Regions from separate parts of the Homo sapiens genome. Here region 2 is linked to region 1. The links come from fine-mapping of genetic effects on gene expression. Tissue or cell type: whole blood. Region 1 holds a variant in brackets; the other region holds the start of a gene. All regions are shown on one strand. Distances are from middle to middle.

Region 1 (8,105 bases):
GTGAGTAAAACAGCTGTTGTCTTAAGCATAAATCAAGGCACTGCTACAAACTAAAGTTACTGTATTCTTCATGGTCTTGCTCTTACAGTAAAAAAAAAAAAAAGAAAGGCTATTTTCATTTAAGAATACCCATAATGAAAAAGTAAAAATGGATTTTTATCACATCTTGACCCTCAAATGCATCTTTTCAATGTTCTGTTTGATGAAATAGGAAGTATGCATAAAGCCCTTTTTAGGCATACCAAAATATGATGGTTGTTTTGAGGAAAAGTACTTATGTAATTTTTTGAGTTGCAAGTTGAACTAACTGGCATTGTTTTTTTAGTGGAACACCTTTTTTTTTGAAAGAAAGACTAGCAAACTATGGTTATTCGGACTCCAGTATTTGCCAAACATTTTCTTGAAAATGAATGAAGTGAGCTTATCACCTCGAGGTAAACAACTGATAGCATTTATTGCTAATGATAAAAACAGAGCTTTCAGTGGAAGCTAAAATTTTGGAAAACTTGAATTTGCCACGAGCTGACAGTTTCCAAATAATGTTCATTTGCATGGTTTCAGATTCACACCGTTAATAACATTTAAGGAAGGACTACTTATGAAGTTTTTATGTAGTATCAAAGATTACCTGAAATGGCTCTTAAAATACTCTTCTCTTTTCCCAATACAGATCTGTATGAGGCCTTATTTCCCATCTACCTCAACTAAAACAATAAATTGCAACAAAATGAATACAGAAGTAGACATGAAAATATAGCTACCGTCTATTAAGTTGGCTTTAAAGGGATTTACAAAAATGTTAAACAATGCCACCCTTCTAATGTTTTTTGGTTTGAGAAAATAGTTATTTTTCCATAAAAATAGATTTTTAAAGTGGGTTTATTTTAAAATACATAATACACATGGAAAACGTCTCAGTTTTAATTTCTAAGACAGTAAATATGAATAGAAGTAGTCCACATAAACAGAAACCACATAGTGTCCTTAGTCATTTTTAAGACTGAGGTCCTAAAACCAAAAAGTTTGAGAACTACCATCTAACACTCTCACTCTTTCCAATATGCTATAACTCACCAATGAGAGAAATCAAAGGACAAAAACAACCAAGAAAGTACCTTGCACGCTAAACACACACATTAGTTTAATTATCACCAGGACAGGCCCTGGTCATTGTGTCAGGTGGGCCTTTACCATCCACATAATCCATCAAGGCAATGTAATTCGTGGGGCAGCATCACTGAAACAAGGCATAATCTGTAGCCACAGGGCTTGAGCTCAATCCCTAATTGCACCATTTTGCAGGTATATATTTTTTGAAGATTTGGTGCATCTATCTCTAAAATGGGATATGACTGATAGCTGTCTTTACACTGAGTTACCTTAAAAATAAAATGAGAAGATGTAAATAACAATTAAGGTTTGTATTTGTGAAACAAATTTTTTGTCAGGTATTATGCTTAGTGACTTGCTTCTCTGACCTCAATGAAACCCTGCCACTACCAAGAAACAGTCACTCTTATTTATTTTTAGAGACAAGGAAACTAGCATTAGAAAAGTTAAGTGAATTGCCAAAGGCTATAAAGCTGGTGAGGCGGAAACTAGGATTCCAGGTGTGATTGGGACCAAAACCCATGATCCTCCAACCACCTATGCTTCATAGCCTCTCGAATCCTATGTTACAAGGTAGAAAAACTTTTTATAGGAACAATTTTCTATAATGTGGAGGAGGGGGGAGTAAGAAAAGCAAGTTACTTTAAAACTGACTTGGTGCATCAACTGCGGTATGGGCTCACAGAGTAATCAGCTGTAAGTGCAATCCTTTTCGCAGTCCTCAGACGTATGGTTAATTAAAAACAGCCTCAGCCCTATGCACTGTTAATGCCAACATCTTTGTAGGTAGCCCTTGGGAGTTTTCACATAACATCTCACTTGATCGTACTTTCTATAATCACAGACAGTTCAGAAAAAGGAAAAAAACCCGAAGCATCTCAATGATGGTTGAGATAGTTACCATCATTTAGTGCACTGATATTTTTTAAGACCACTGCCCCAGAAACTGATAAACACAATACACCTGCAATAGTGATTTCTTACATCGAACAAATAACAAATGTTTTTCTCATCCAGAGTTAGTCAAAAGCTGAAAGCTAGTATGAGACCTGGCCCGCAAATCTATCCTTTCCTTTTTCTCCATAAAAATAAGTAATGATTTAGTATAAACTATTAAAATACTCTTCAAAGGCAATACTTAATTAGAAAATGACATTTTTTAGTATTTAGCATAGACCTTCGAACATAATAGACTTTTGGTACTTGCTGGTTGAACTGGGAATACAATTTACAAAGTCTATAAAGTACCAAAGCACCTTCTCTTTAATTTCTACTGTATCAGTTTGCTTAACGTTTCTGGCCTTCACTAGCCTAAGAGAACAGGATTTTTGGGAATCTTCTGAGAAGTATGGGTTCCCACGGGGGTACTCCTGAGCCCCAGGAGGGTGTTGAGTGCTGCTCAGCTGGGGGCTGCAGGTGCTGCACGAAGATCCAGAACCCTGACCCCCTCGGGGTGAGTTGGCTTTCTGGGAGCCCTCTAATCCAAGGTGTGGCCCTATCAATCTGTCTAGTTTGCTCTTCCCTTTCCAGGAAAAGCATAAAAAGGGAAGCAGAAAGTTGCTGGCTGTTGTCAAGTTGTGTAAACTCCTGGGACTGCCTTTTATTCAATCAGAATAATGTTTTCTTAGTAACCAAACTACAGTAGAAACTGATTCTTCTACTTGGCTCCCTCACCAGGAATGCCACCACCACTTTCAAAGGCAAAATTTGTTTTCCTTTACTAAATGAATTAGGTTTTCCAGCAATTTCCTTTAGATTTTTCTTAGACTTCTACTCCTTAAAGGGGAGTGGGTGTGGAAAAAGGGCTGTAGCTTGAGGTATGTATATGGGAGTAGCTTGATCAGTACTTCTGCTGAGGGAAACAGCACAACCAGAGCATGAGGTGACAGAGGCAGGATATTGTAGAAGAGCAAAGGCAACGGGTTCAGAGACAGAATGTTTGGGTTCAAGTCTGTAACACATACTAATAGGGTAAATGAACAAGTTATA[T/TA]ATCTCAATTTGCCTCAGTTTCCTCATCTGGATTAAAGGTACAGTAACCACAGGATTGTTGTAATGTCTTCAATGAAATAATCTACATAACACACCCACCAAACTGCCAGGTTCATCAAAAACATTCAATAAATCTCAGATGGTTTTGTATGGAGACAAACAAATGTATTAGGTGAGCAAACGCAGATGATGAATGTTGGCCTGAATGGCCACTGAGCTGTGTGTATGGCACATATACACACAGTTGAAAGGAACCTGCAGCGTAGCAAACCGTAGAGATGAGATTGGTCCAGGAACCTTGGAGGTGATGACTCTTGACTTAAGCCAATACATTTGGTCCTTGGAAACTAAAGCAAGACATCAATGCGAAAACACCCATCTCAGAGAAAACAGATCTTCCTGCCCAAGCAAGTCCTTTACCAGCTATTACCAAAGTGAACTGTCAGTCTTGTTTTGCTTCCTCTCTTTCTACCACACCACACTTTGAGCAAGGCCTCCAGTGAAAGTGCAGGCAATGCTCAGAGTGAAGGAAAACCGAGGGTGCTCTTCTGAATAAATGAGGTTTATATAATCTAAGATTTACAAAAACATGGATTTGTTAAATCCAAAAGCACAGAAACATTAGAGCCAAAGTTCAAAATTATCCTTTCCGAAGTTTTTGAAAATAATAAATAATTCTATGTTCGATATTTATTTTCTTTCAGATTTGCTTATTCGCTGTGTAAGATTAATTCAATGGCATACATCGCCAATTAGAAAAACTGTCAGGAAGACAGACACATACACACGTTTATTTATTGTGACAGAGAAAAAGAATATTGTAACTGGCCAAATAGGTTAATGGAGTGTAGAAAGGTAGTTTTCATTTTTCAAATAGGTTATCTTCATCTGTAAACTAACCTTTTGTATCTAATGGATTATGACAAATTATCACCTAAGGCCACAGAAGCCTATGTGATACATGAATAACTGACCTAGGTTAAGGACATCTTGAGAATGAGTTCTGGATCCTTAAAGGAGGTAAAAGCACAATACCAAGAGACTGGGAGAGAAGAGGGAACAGCTCCTCTTCTCCAGGGCAGGGCTAACTTGGAAAAGCATGATATAAATAGTTTTCCTTTGGCACCTTTCAACCTCATTGTACTCCTTTCTCTGGGGACTTAGGAGGATTAAATTATTTCACTGGGTGGCTCTTAGAGAAATAATTTCATCCCCCAAAACCAACAAAATCCAAATGATCCGTCCAGGTGGTGTTACCCAGAACCTTTCTAAGTGTGCACATGGTATGAGGGCTGGGGAGGGGGTTGCAGCACAACATGGGGATGCCCACACACGACTGCCTGGCAAACAGTTTCCTCCACCACCCCCATCCCTGGGTCTGCCTCCCGGGGCCAGCACCTCTAGTGTCTCAGATCGTTAGGGATTCTTCCTGTCATTTACTTTGGAAACCAGAGATTCCTTAAATCTCAAAACCCTTTTCTTGGTTGGGGGTTAAAAGGATGTGGGGAGTTGAGGGAGGTTCATTATTTATATATCAGAAACCAAAATGCATGATCACCTTCACACAAGTGAGATATAATACTTTCAATGTGTATTTCCAATGTATGTTCGACACAGAAATCATCATTCTTTTAGCCAATTAAAAAGCAAAAGTTGCTAAAGGTTATCTTTAAAAAAAAATCAATGGTAGAGATGTGGAAGAGAATTCAGGTTAAGCAGTTTCTCTCTCAGCTTCGATAAATCTACTCTATCAGCTGGGCCAAAGGTACAAATTCCAGGAATTTCACAATGGGATTTTCTTTAAGCAAATCCTAGGCGACTAAAAAGCTTTTTAGTTGAGGTGTGGAAGTTACCTAGGACTAAAAAGCTTTTTGTTTTTTCTTTCTCACCCCTAGGACCAAGGATTGAGGGGGAAGGATTATTGAAATGTTCTCTATATGACGTAATATTTTGGAAAGGCTGTAATTCTTTTTACTCACATATGAAATGTCTTACCAGATTTTTCAGCAGTGTGGACAGTTCCTTTGTAAGAGTAGAAAACTTGACAAACGCGGTGCCAAGGTCGGGGTTGTCTCGACTTAAAAAATTACTCCCAAACTTATCAAGAACTTGTGCATAGTTTTCTTCATTTTGTACATGATCTAAAAACAAAAAAGAAGAAGAAAGGAGTCTGAACTATTATTTGCCACAATGAAAAGTTACTTTGAACACCGATCACTACGAATTCTCAAAATGGAAGCATAAACTGTATCAATTATTTATTGCACATGTCCCAAAGGTTAGGTTAGGAGTACACTAAATATTCTAACTCACTCTACTAAGGAAGATTTTCCCTTTTATCTTTTTTTCTTTTTTTTTGAGACAGAGTCTCACTCTGTCTCCCAGGCTGGAGTGCAATGGCACAATCTCGGCTCACTGCACCCTCCGCCTCCCAGGATCAAGTGATTCTCCTGCCTCAGCCTCTTGAGTAGCTGGGATTAAAGATGCATGCCACCATGCCCGGCTAATTTTTTGTATTTTTAGTAGAGACAGGGTTTCACCAAGTTGGTGAGGCTGGTCTCAAACTCCTGACCTTGTGATCCGCCCACCTCGGCCTCCAAAAGTGCTGGGATTACAGGTGTGAGCCACCGCACCTCGCCTTTCCCTTTTTCTTTCATAGAATTTAGCTCATTTATAGTCCAGTTAATCCACTAATTCCTCATAGGCTGAGGGGTCAAATTACATCACATTTTCAAGCAATTAAGAAACTATGATTGACTGGGTATGGTGGCTCACGCCTGTAATCCTAGAACTTTGGGAGGCTAACGTAGGCAGGTCGCTTGAGCCCAGGAGTTCAAGACCAGCCTGGGCAACATGGCGAGACCCCGTCTCTACAAAAAATTAACAATTAGCTGGGTGTAGGGCCGGGAGCGGTGGCTCACGCCTATAATCCCAGCACTTTGGGAGGCCAAGGCGGGCCGATCACGAGGTCAGGAGATCGAGACCATCCTGACTAACACGGTGAAACCCCATCTCTACTAAAAATACAAAAAAGTTAGCCAGGTGTAGTAGCGGGTGCCTGTAATCCCAGCTACTCGGGAGGCGGAGGCAGGAGAATGGTGTGAACCTGGGAGGCGGAGCTTGCAGTGAGCCGAGACCGCGTCACTGCACTCCAGCCTGAGCAACAGAGTGAGACTCTGTCTCAAAACAACAACAACAACAACAACAAAAAACAATTAGCTGGGTATTGTGGCATGCACCTGTGGTCTCAGCTACTTGGGAGGCTGAGGCAGGAGGACTGCTGGAGACTGGGAAGTCGAGGCTACAGTGAGCTGTGCTTGTGCCACTGCACCCAGCCTGGGTGATAGAATGAGACCCTATCTCCAAAAAAAAAGAAAGAAAGGAAAGGGGAAAGGGGAAAGAAAAAGAAAAAGAAAAAGGAAAGGAAAGGAAAGGAAAGGAAAGGAAAGGAAAGGAAAAAGGAAAGGAAAGGAAAAAGGAAAGGAAAAGAAAGAAAAGGAAAAAGGAAAGGAAAGGGAAAAGGAAGAAAGAAACTATGATTACCTGAAAAAGTAGAAAATTCTCCTTGGAAAAACAATCTTGGATTGCAAAAGAAAAATTCATGTGTCCTAACAGGTTTCTTTCCCTGCAACTAATCTTCATTTCCTTTAATTTTGTCTAAGTTCCAGGTCTGAGGAATAGTATTTGTAAAATGCTTTTCACAGTCCAGCTCTTGCTGCAAAATGTTCAGAATTGGATCAGATGAATTAGGTGCACATGAGAAACATTAATTTGTGAAAATTTCTCCTCCCTGAGCTTTTGTTTTCCAATCCATAAAATGAGTCCAATATCTAACTTACAGAATTGTGGTATTGATGAGCTGACATAAAGTATATAAAAGTTTCTCAGTAGAGCAAATACTGCATAAACAATAACCCCCACTGCCTTGAAACATGTTCTTTGTCTGGCTTCCAGGATATCACACTTTCTTGAGTGTCCTCTTGCCTCACGACTGGTCCTCTCCATTGTCTTTGCTGGTTCTTCATCTCTCTGACCTCATCATGTTGAGGCCCCTCAGTCTTGGACCTTTCTTCTCTATTTTTGCTTACTCTCTTGGGATCTCAGTCTTACGGCTTTAAATACTTTCTATCAGCTGATAACTCCTAAATTGATATCCCCAGCCCAGAAAAACCCACCCTCTGTAATACAGACATATATTCAACTACCTATTCAGTATCTCCACTAACTATGTTGAATCTTAACATGTCTAAAACCAAACTCTTGATCTTCTTCCCATTCTTTTTCTCACAGTCCCCTATCTGTGGCAATGGCAAATACACTCTGCTTCTGAAATGGTCTCTCTGTTGCTACTTTTGCCTCCCAGCAGTCTGGTACCAACACAGCATCCAATGCAACACTGTTATACTGTGCATCAGATCTTGTGACTCTTGTGGCAGACATTACCACTTGCCATGGATATCCAAGTTCCCAATCCTTGCAGGGTTACAGAAAGGAGTACTGCATTTCCCCATACTCTCAAAGTAAGGCAGGAAATATGGCATGCACCATCCAAGGCCATGTGAGTGGAAGTGATGCATACCACGTTCTCTTGGAAGCATTTCAGATGCCTGTACTCAACTCTCCACCTCCCTCCTCTGTTGTGGCGCACAGAGAAGCATGAATTTGTAGGGAGGCCCACAGTAGATGCATAGTATTTACATAATGAATAAATGAATAAATAGATATTTATCAAAGTCATATCTTTTTTTTTGGTTTTTTTTGGTCATATTTTTAAAGGCTTTACAATAAATTACTTTTCTTTATAAAGTCTTCCTTTAGTTGGAAACAATCCTTCCTTGCCCACAATTCTCTGTACCTCTACTGCAGTATTTTCTACCACATCCTATATGTGTATATATGTATATATACACGTATATATACACACGTATATATGTATATTATATGTGTATATATGTGTATATATGTGTGTATATATGTACACACACACACACACACACACAGATCTT
Region 2 (8,105 bases), 230 kb after region 1:
ACCATCCTGATCAACACGGCGAAACCCCGTCTCTACTAAAAATATAAAAATTAGCCAGGTGTGGTGGTGCATGCCTATCATCCCAGCTACTCAGGAGGCTGAGGCAGGAGAATCACCTGAACCCAGGAGGCAGAGGTTGCAGTGAGCTGAGATCATGCCACTGCACTCCAGACTGGGCAACAGACCTAGACTCTGTCAAAAAAAAAAAAAAAAGAGTCAATCAGATATCACTGCTGAGCTTAAACTCACCAAAGCTTCCCTTTGTACTGGGTGGAGGGACTCTCCCCAGCATGGCTTAGAATCGGCTGTGTGATCTCGTCCCTGCTTCCCTCTCAAACCTCACCTTGCGCCATTCCCCCCATCTCTCCCTTACACTCTAGCCCTGCCTTCCCTCACTCCTTGGAATACACCAAGCTCTTTTGTGCATAGTCAACTTTGCACATTCCCATCCCTCTGCCTGGAAGGCCCTCCCCTGCAATCTCTCTGCCTGGCCAGTTCCTTCTCCATTTTCCAATCTCAGAAAGGCTTTCCCTTCCAAAACTAGGACCAACTTGTGCCACCAGCCCCTACTTTGGTCCCAGGTTTGTTTCCTTGATAACAAGGAATCACTCATCTGTTAGAGGTTGTTTCTTCTGCTTCTTCCTTGTTGCTCATCTCCTCCAGAGGAATGCAAGCTCCAGAAGGGCAGTGCCAGGTCTATTTCGTCCACCACTGTATCATCAGGACTCCACACAGGGCTTAGCATGGCGCAGGTGCTCAATGCATGGTTGTTCAATTGATGAATTAAAAGAGAAAGTGTGAGGCTGACATTGAAAGATGAGGCTGGAAATAGAAGGCCTTGAGAACAGGGTCCTATTCATCTTTGCAGGACTGGCACCTCCCACAGGGAAGCCACTTAGCAAATGTTTCACTGGATGCATGAAAGAAAAACTCGATTCCAGATAAATCTGAGATGTGCTGTCCTTTCTGGGCAAGGCTCCCCAAGAAGTTTCCGCTCCTCCTTAGGACTTCTTAGGAGGTAACATGTCTAGGGCATACAGCAAGTGCTTAATAAATGGGGTGACTGTTACTATTGCTCACGTGGGGATCACTCATGCAGTCTCCTAGAAAAGACCTTCCGGAGCCCATGCCAGATACAGCAGTGGTTGGGTGAAAAAACGGCAGGGAAAAATGAGAACCGAGCAGCAGGATCCAAATACGGCTGAGACCTAGGTGGGGAAATGGCAGGAACAACACTGTCCTAGCTAACTGGGGTTCCCTTCTTTCCTCTAGACTTCAGTCACCTAGGTGCAGCATGGAGATGCCAGCTGGGACGTGAGTCTTCACAAGGGAGGGCTCAATCTGAATGCACACATTCATCTTTGGGCCTGCCAGGCTTGCACTGATTTTGAAAATCTGGCTCGCTGTGGCTGGTGAGGACTGGGGAGGTGTAGAGAATTTCAATTTCCCTCACCAAATGGCAAGCTTGCGAAAAGTCCTTTCTCTCCAACATTATCACATACTAAAAATGAAAAACCAGCCATTCAGAGCTCTCATGAGAAAAATAGATGGGCTGCTTAGCTCACAAGAAACAGGAGGGCTGAAAATCAAGTCTAGAGAACATCAGAGGGTACATTATGTGCTAAGATACTGCCCTTTTTTGGACCTGGGAGTTTCTATTTTGCACAAAAGAATGGGATAGGGAAAGTAATTCCCCGTATAATAAGCCACTCATTTTATACTTCAAATCCATTTGGTAGCTGAATCTCCAAATCCACTTAGTGGCGTTAGGTGATTTTTGTTTTTTTTAACTCCCTATCTCAAAATATGCAGTTTGAAATAAGTGCATATCTCAAAAATAGCAGCATTAACAGGACAGAAGAGAAGGCACTAAAGTGGTGAAGGCTGTGACGCAAAGAAGACGTTTCCAAATCTGTTTCATGGCTAACAGATCAAAATCTAACACAGAAGGGGCATGGGACTGAGCCTGAAGAAGTGGAAACTACTCCTGGCCATGTGATCTTGGGCAAGTCAGGTCACCTTTCTGGGCCTTCTCTGAAGGGGGTGAATCAGTTGTTCTCAAAGATCTTTTTCTTTCCAAACTGTTCACTGGGTGTTTCCAGAAGACCCGCATTTTCTTAAAGCTATCTGGCCGCGCTACAATTGCAAAACAGAAAGGCTTTGGGATGAAGGTTGCAATACAGATAACCCTGGCCTAAAAACTGATAAGCTTTTACAATCCCAAAACATTACTCAGCAATCCAGGTCCTGATGTCATCCCAGAATCAATCACGCCAAGATAACCTAACAGAGTAGACAGGGGAAAATGCGAGAGAAAGTTCTTTTGCTTTCCTGACGAGTACAGGTAAAGTTGAGGTCAAGTTAACGATGATGGTCTGCAGTTGACCATCCTTCTCCCTGAGCTACTGGAAAACCACATTATTAAAGGAAACTGCTTTAGAAGTGCCCAAGATGAACCTCTTGGGATGTATCAAACCGCAGAAAACCGGACACCGGCAAGTTTCTTTTTTCTTTGAAACTTCATGTCGCTCTCAGAAAACGCAGCAGGTCCCAAAATGGTACAAGCAGAAAACACAAGCCACTTCACGGTCCGCCCAGGAGCCAACCCCAAGCTCCAAGTAGGACTCCCCCCACCCCCTTCCCTTTCGTTTCTCTTCTTTTGCTTTAGGCAAGTGGCCTGGGGCCTGCCAAGCAGCGCCGGGTCCGGGTAGGGGCCGGGGGCCGCGGGGAACTTTCCTCGGCTGCACCAGAGACAATGCCGGGAGGGCGCCCCATCGGCGGGGTCCGGGCCGCCAAGCACGTCGTCCCGGGCCCTCCCCCGGAGGGGGACGCGAAACCCCCCAGGGCGGGCCCCGTCCCCGGCCCCACTGCAGGGGCCCCCTCTCCCGAGCTGGAGGCGAGGAGACCTCCCCCCCCCACCGGGCGGCCTCGCCCGGCCCCGCAGAGCCTGGCCGCGCGTCCCGCACACGCCCCAGCCCAGGGCCGGCGCCCTCCCCGCGGAGAAGGACACCCCGCTGCGAGAGGAGCCGGGAGCCCGCCCCGCGCCCCGTCCCGGCGCCCTTCTTCGCGCGAGAGACTGGGCAGGGGGCGCCCGCGACTGTGGGCGACTCCGCCCGGCCCCGCCGAGCGCGCCCGAGCGCCCCGCAACTCACCGGGACCTGGCGGGCCGCTGGGCATTATTCCATCGCGGGTTCGGCCGGGCGCTCGCGGCTCTCGGGTGGGAAAGCGAACTGCGACCGGGAAGCGCCGGCTGGGCGGGAGGCGCGGGCCCGGGGCTGCCCAGCGCACAGTGCTCGCCCGCGGCAGCGGCCAGGCCAGGCGAGGCGCGGGAGCCGAGCGCGGCGCAGGAAGGGGCGGGCGACCATGTGCCGAGGGGGAGGAGGCCGCGGCGACGCGAGCGGCTCGCACGATCCCGCTCGGCGGCGGAGGGCGCGGGTTTCAGGAAATCCAAACACTTCGACAGGAAATCGGAATCCTGACTAAGCATTCCCGGCCCCGAGCCGCTCCGCGCCGGGGGCTCCCGCCTCGCTTAACCCTTGGCCCGCCGGCAGCCACGAGGGGGGCGTGGGAGGGGCCCCAGACCTCGGCCGGGGTCGGGCGTCCTTCGCCTTCCGCCCCATGCCCCGGCCGGCCGGCCTCCTCCCCGCCTGAGGTGGAAGGGGTGGGATTTATCCACAGAAAACCCTGGACGCGGAAGGTGCCTTTCTAAGGCCGGGACAGCGGCAAAGGACGTGCCTGTCTTCCATCTGCAGAGGATGGACCTGCACTGTCCTGGCCGTTACCCCTATTTTCAGTAAAGGAATGATTTCACCAGGCTGCCCCCTTTCACCACTTCCTCTCTGCTCTTATAATTTTATTTTTGCCCAGTGCCAAGGGAACAGGACCTTCCCAGTCAGGATAGTATAGGAACAGTATGGAGAGTAATTGTGTGGGCTGCAGGCTCTGTGTCCGGTTGGAATATGGCCTTTTTTCTACTCATGTTACCTTGAGTAACTCGCTCAACTTTCCTGAGCCTCAGTTTCCATTTATGAAATGGATGTTAATTCCACCCTCATAGGTTTGATCTGGAAGCTGAATGTTTAGACAGGGACTGGCACATTGGAAACGCCCAAATAAATGATAGCCATGCTTGTCCTTATTATTACCATTAAAAGACATCAGAGAAAGGAGGATTTTAATTTGTGGGATGTATATTGTGCATATCTATGTCTACTTTCAAAGTCAGAGACAGTAGTCTTTCTTTAGAACTTAATTTCCCTCCTAATCATTGGGTGATTGTTTTTCTTTGCAGCATTTCAGAAACGGCTCTCTGCAGAGGAAATGGTTAGTGGCTGTGGCAGACCCCCTTCTGGTGAAATCCGAAACAGAAAACCTCACAAAATTTGGGATTTTGCTCCTAATCTGAGAGTCTGGGTGTAGTGGGGAGTGGGGGTTGTTAAACAGTCTGGAGCGGATTTACAAAGTTTGGGAAAACCAAAATCAATCTCTGACTGGGCAGAGAGGTCGGGCAGCCAATGAGTGATTCATTGTGGTTTCCCACGGAAATGCCACATTTCGGGGGTGTCTACCTGGAGGATGCAGCTTGGTGGTTTTGCTGTAAGTGTTTCAGATTCCTTTGAAACCCAATCAGACTTTGAAGAGGGAACAACATGCTCATGAGCGAAAACAGAAGCCTGAAATGAACCTGCTGGGAACTGAAAGTTGGGTACCAGCTCGTTTACTCCAAGTAAGGAACAGATACCAGTTTTAGACCCAGCATTGTTCCTTTTCTGCAATTCTCTCTCCGTGGCCAGAAGCAGTAGGACAGCTCTGAGCTGGGCACCAGGAGTCCCAGGGTCCTGCTCCAGGCCCACTGTAGCTGCCGTCCCCTCTGCCTGGAAGAACCCTTGTATGGCTGTTCTTGGCACGCAGCTCACAGCCCAGAAGTCAGCTCCGCAGATAGGTTTTCCCCAACCATGTGATCTGCTTGTCTCTGGCACCTACACCCCACCTCCACCTCTCCCAAACATAGCGCATCCTGTTTGATTGCTTCATAGCCCTTGTCACTGTTTAATGTAGCCTACATGATTGGTTGCTTATTTTTTATCTGCCCCCCACTCTCCCCACTGCATGGGTAAACTGCATTACAGCAGTACCTTTGCCTGTTTCCTTAGAACAGTGCTGGCCCATATGAGACCATCGATAAACACGTGTTGAATAAATGAAAGAAGCAAACAAACTAGAGTTGCAGATGGGACCTCTGCCTGAGGTAGGGTGGTTCACTCGGTCCCGCAGCTCCCTGTGGCTTCCTCTTTGGTGGAGAGATTCAAAAGGGAACGCCCAGTGCGGTGGAAGGAGCACCAGATGGCTCTATTAGTGCTTCTGGAAAACTAAAACTATAAGTAGGCCAGGCGCGGTGGCTCACGCCTGTAATCCCAGCACTTTGGGAGGCCGAGCAGGTAGATCACCTAAGGTCAGGAGTTTGAGACCAGTCTGGCCAACATGGTGAAACCCCGTGTCTACTAAAAATACAAAAAATTGCCGGGCGTGGTGGTGGGCACCTGTAATCCCAGCTTCTCCAGAGGCTGAGGCAGGAGAATCGCTTGAACCCGGGAGGCAGAGGTTGCAGTGAGCTGAGATCATGCCATTGCATCCCAGACAGGGTGACAGAGTGAGACTCCGTCTCAAAAAAAAAAAAAAAAAAAAAAAAAAAAAAAACCTAAGTAATTAAGACTGTCAAATGAGGTAACTATAGTCTCATTGGTATAGTCCCAGTTAATTACTCCCTCCTTTGTGCTTCCTTGGCATTTCTGTTTAAAGAATATATTTGTCATATTGTATACTCACTAGATGACTGTTCTCCTAAATCAGATGGAGGAAAGGAGTCCACATTTGTTGACCACTTGCTCTGAGTGGGTCCCTGAGCAAGGTGAACTTGAATTCATTTTAAGGCATCGGTTAAGTGCCTGTAATGTGCTAAAAAAATCTGGGCCCTACATGTGCAATGATGAAAAAGAACTATTCTTGCTAAGAAAGACAGGAAAGCTCTATCTAGTAAGCAGAGAGATAAGTACTCTTATAGAGTCATGTCCAGGGTATCCAGGGCTATTCAGAACATTGAAGGTGGAGTAGGGTGGAGATAAGTTGGAAAATGCTTCCAAGAAGTGGGTGCTCTTGAACGAACTTTCAAGGAGGAGATGGGACCTATGTAGCTAGATAAGGGGGCACAGGCCTGCCAACCAGAGTAACAAGCGTGAGTGTTAGTGATGCTCGGCTCCATGTCCCCTGGGCCCACCTCTGAGCTCACCGGCAGCTGCAATGAGCTGCCCTCTGTACAGAGAAACTGTCTATCCAAAGCAGGCCCCCTTTCTCCTCTCTACCAGGAGGCTTTCTCAAGGGCTGTGGGATCTTGCCTAGCCTGGAAGTTTCCAACAGCCCTGGGTCAGTCCTTAACCAAACAGTGGATGAATGTGTCAGCCTCCCCTTCCCTAAGGAAGATCAATTCTCAAATGCTCTCAAGGCAGTTCCTCAGAGGAATTCCCCAGTAGGAATGAGTCCAGTTGCCCCCAGCAGTCACTCCCTCATTAAGTCACTCTTTGATTTTGCCTCTTCTCCCTTCCTTGCCTTACTTTCTCACTTCCTTATTTGTTCTTGGGATCCCAAATAAAGTAACTGCACCCATCTCCTTGTCTCAAGGTATACTTCTGGGGAAACCCAATCCAGAGTAGTGTTCATGCATATATTCACAGATACTGGCTGGGCACTCCCAAGTGCCTGAGTAAAGACTGAGCATGAACACATAATATATGTGGGTGACTCTACCAGGTTCAGCATGATCTGAGAACATGATGCATGTTCAGACATGGAAAACAATGAGACTAAAAAGCCTTACACCATCTTGCAGTTGAGGAAACTGAGGCACAGGAGTGTTGAGTAACTTGCCCAAGGCCAACCACTAGTGAGTAGAGGAGTGTATTAGTCCATTTTCAGGCTTCTGATAAAGACATACGTGAGACTGGGAAATTTACAAAAGAAAGACATTTAATTGGACTTACAGTTCCACGCAGCTGGGGAAGCCTTACAATCACAGCAGAAGACAAGGAGGAGCAAGTCATGTCTTACGTGGATGGCAGCAGGCAAAGAGAGAGAGAGTTTGTGCAGGGGAATGCATATGGGAATTCAAGATGAAATTTGGGTGGGGACACAGCCAAACCATATCAAGGAGCATTGGAGTCCAGGCTCTTCACCACCCTGCACTGTCTTTCTTGCCAGTTCAAGCTGTTGGGAGAGTGAATAATGAGAAGAAGAGAACCAGAGGAGAACCAGGGGGCATGGGAAGAAATTGCTTTTACAAGGAAGGAATGAGCAACATTCACAAATGTCACAGGAAATTTCATCAAGAAAGGACCAGAAAGCAAGTGTTCATTTCATTTGACAATGAGAAGGCTGATAACTTTTACCAGAGCTGTCTCGATGGAGTGGAGGGATTGGAAGCCAGATTGCGGTGGGTTGAGGACGGAGTGGGAGACAGTAAGCGTGGACAACTCTTTTCAGAAATGTAGCTGTCTAGCAAGTGGGAGGTAAGGGTAGAGGCTTCTTTAAAAATGTGTGGGCAGGCAAGCATCTGGGTTGGTAGGTGAGGTTGAGAGGAAGGGATGGTTCATTGATAGAACAGGTACTGAGGATGAGAGGAGATGGGAACTAGAGTGGGTTGGGGGCACGAACCCTGGACTGGAAGAGGCCACCTTGTCTGCTGAAGGAGAGGGCCGAAGGGCAAGGTGCAGAACTCTAAAGTTCCACCATGAACATCCTGAAGTCACAGACCAGGAGCTAGGTGGGTATCTTGAGTTTAGACCCCTGAGTTTAATTCCTTATGAAAATCATGCTCTGGGCTAGGCAAGGTGGCTCATGCCTGTAATCCCAACACTTTGGGAGACCCAAAGCAAGGGAATCATTTGAGCCCTGGAGTTTGAGACCAGCCTGGGCAAAATGGCAAGACCCCATCTCTACAAAAAAATTTAAAATTAGCCAGACATAGTAGTATGTGCTTCTAGTTCCAGCAACTTGGGAAGCTGAGGTGGGAGGATCCCTTGAGGTGGGAGGATCGCTTGAGCCTGGAGGTCAAG

What was found. PIP is the estimated chance that this variant, and not a neighbour inherited with it, causes the effect.
Region 2: it holds the start of ASAP1, and the variant in region 1 is fine-mapped to the expression of ASAP1 in whole blood (TOPMed, PIP above 0.99).

The regions. Positions count from the first base shown.
Region 1 is chr8:130,209,462-130,217,566 of GRCh38, forward strand. It overlaps ASAP1 (ArfGAP with SH3 domain, ankyrin repeat and PH domain 1), which reads right to left. Exons shown (of 30, transcript NM_018482.4): 5 at 5,095-5,240. Among named protein-coding and RNA genes, the nearest start is that of ASAP1-IT1, 83 kb to the right of the region's middle. The variant T/TA (reference allele first, on the strand shown) is at 3,100.
Region 2 is chr8:130,440,308-130,448,412 of GRCh38, forward strand. It overlaps ASAP1 (ArfGAP with SH3 domain, ankyrin repeat and PH domain 1), which reads right to left and starts at 3,367. Exons shown (of 30, transcript NM_018482.4): 1 at 3,153-3,367. RefSeq lists silencers at 2,922-3,001, 3,052-3,211, 3,222-3,311, 3,352-3,451 and an enhancer at 7,936-8,105.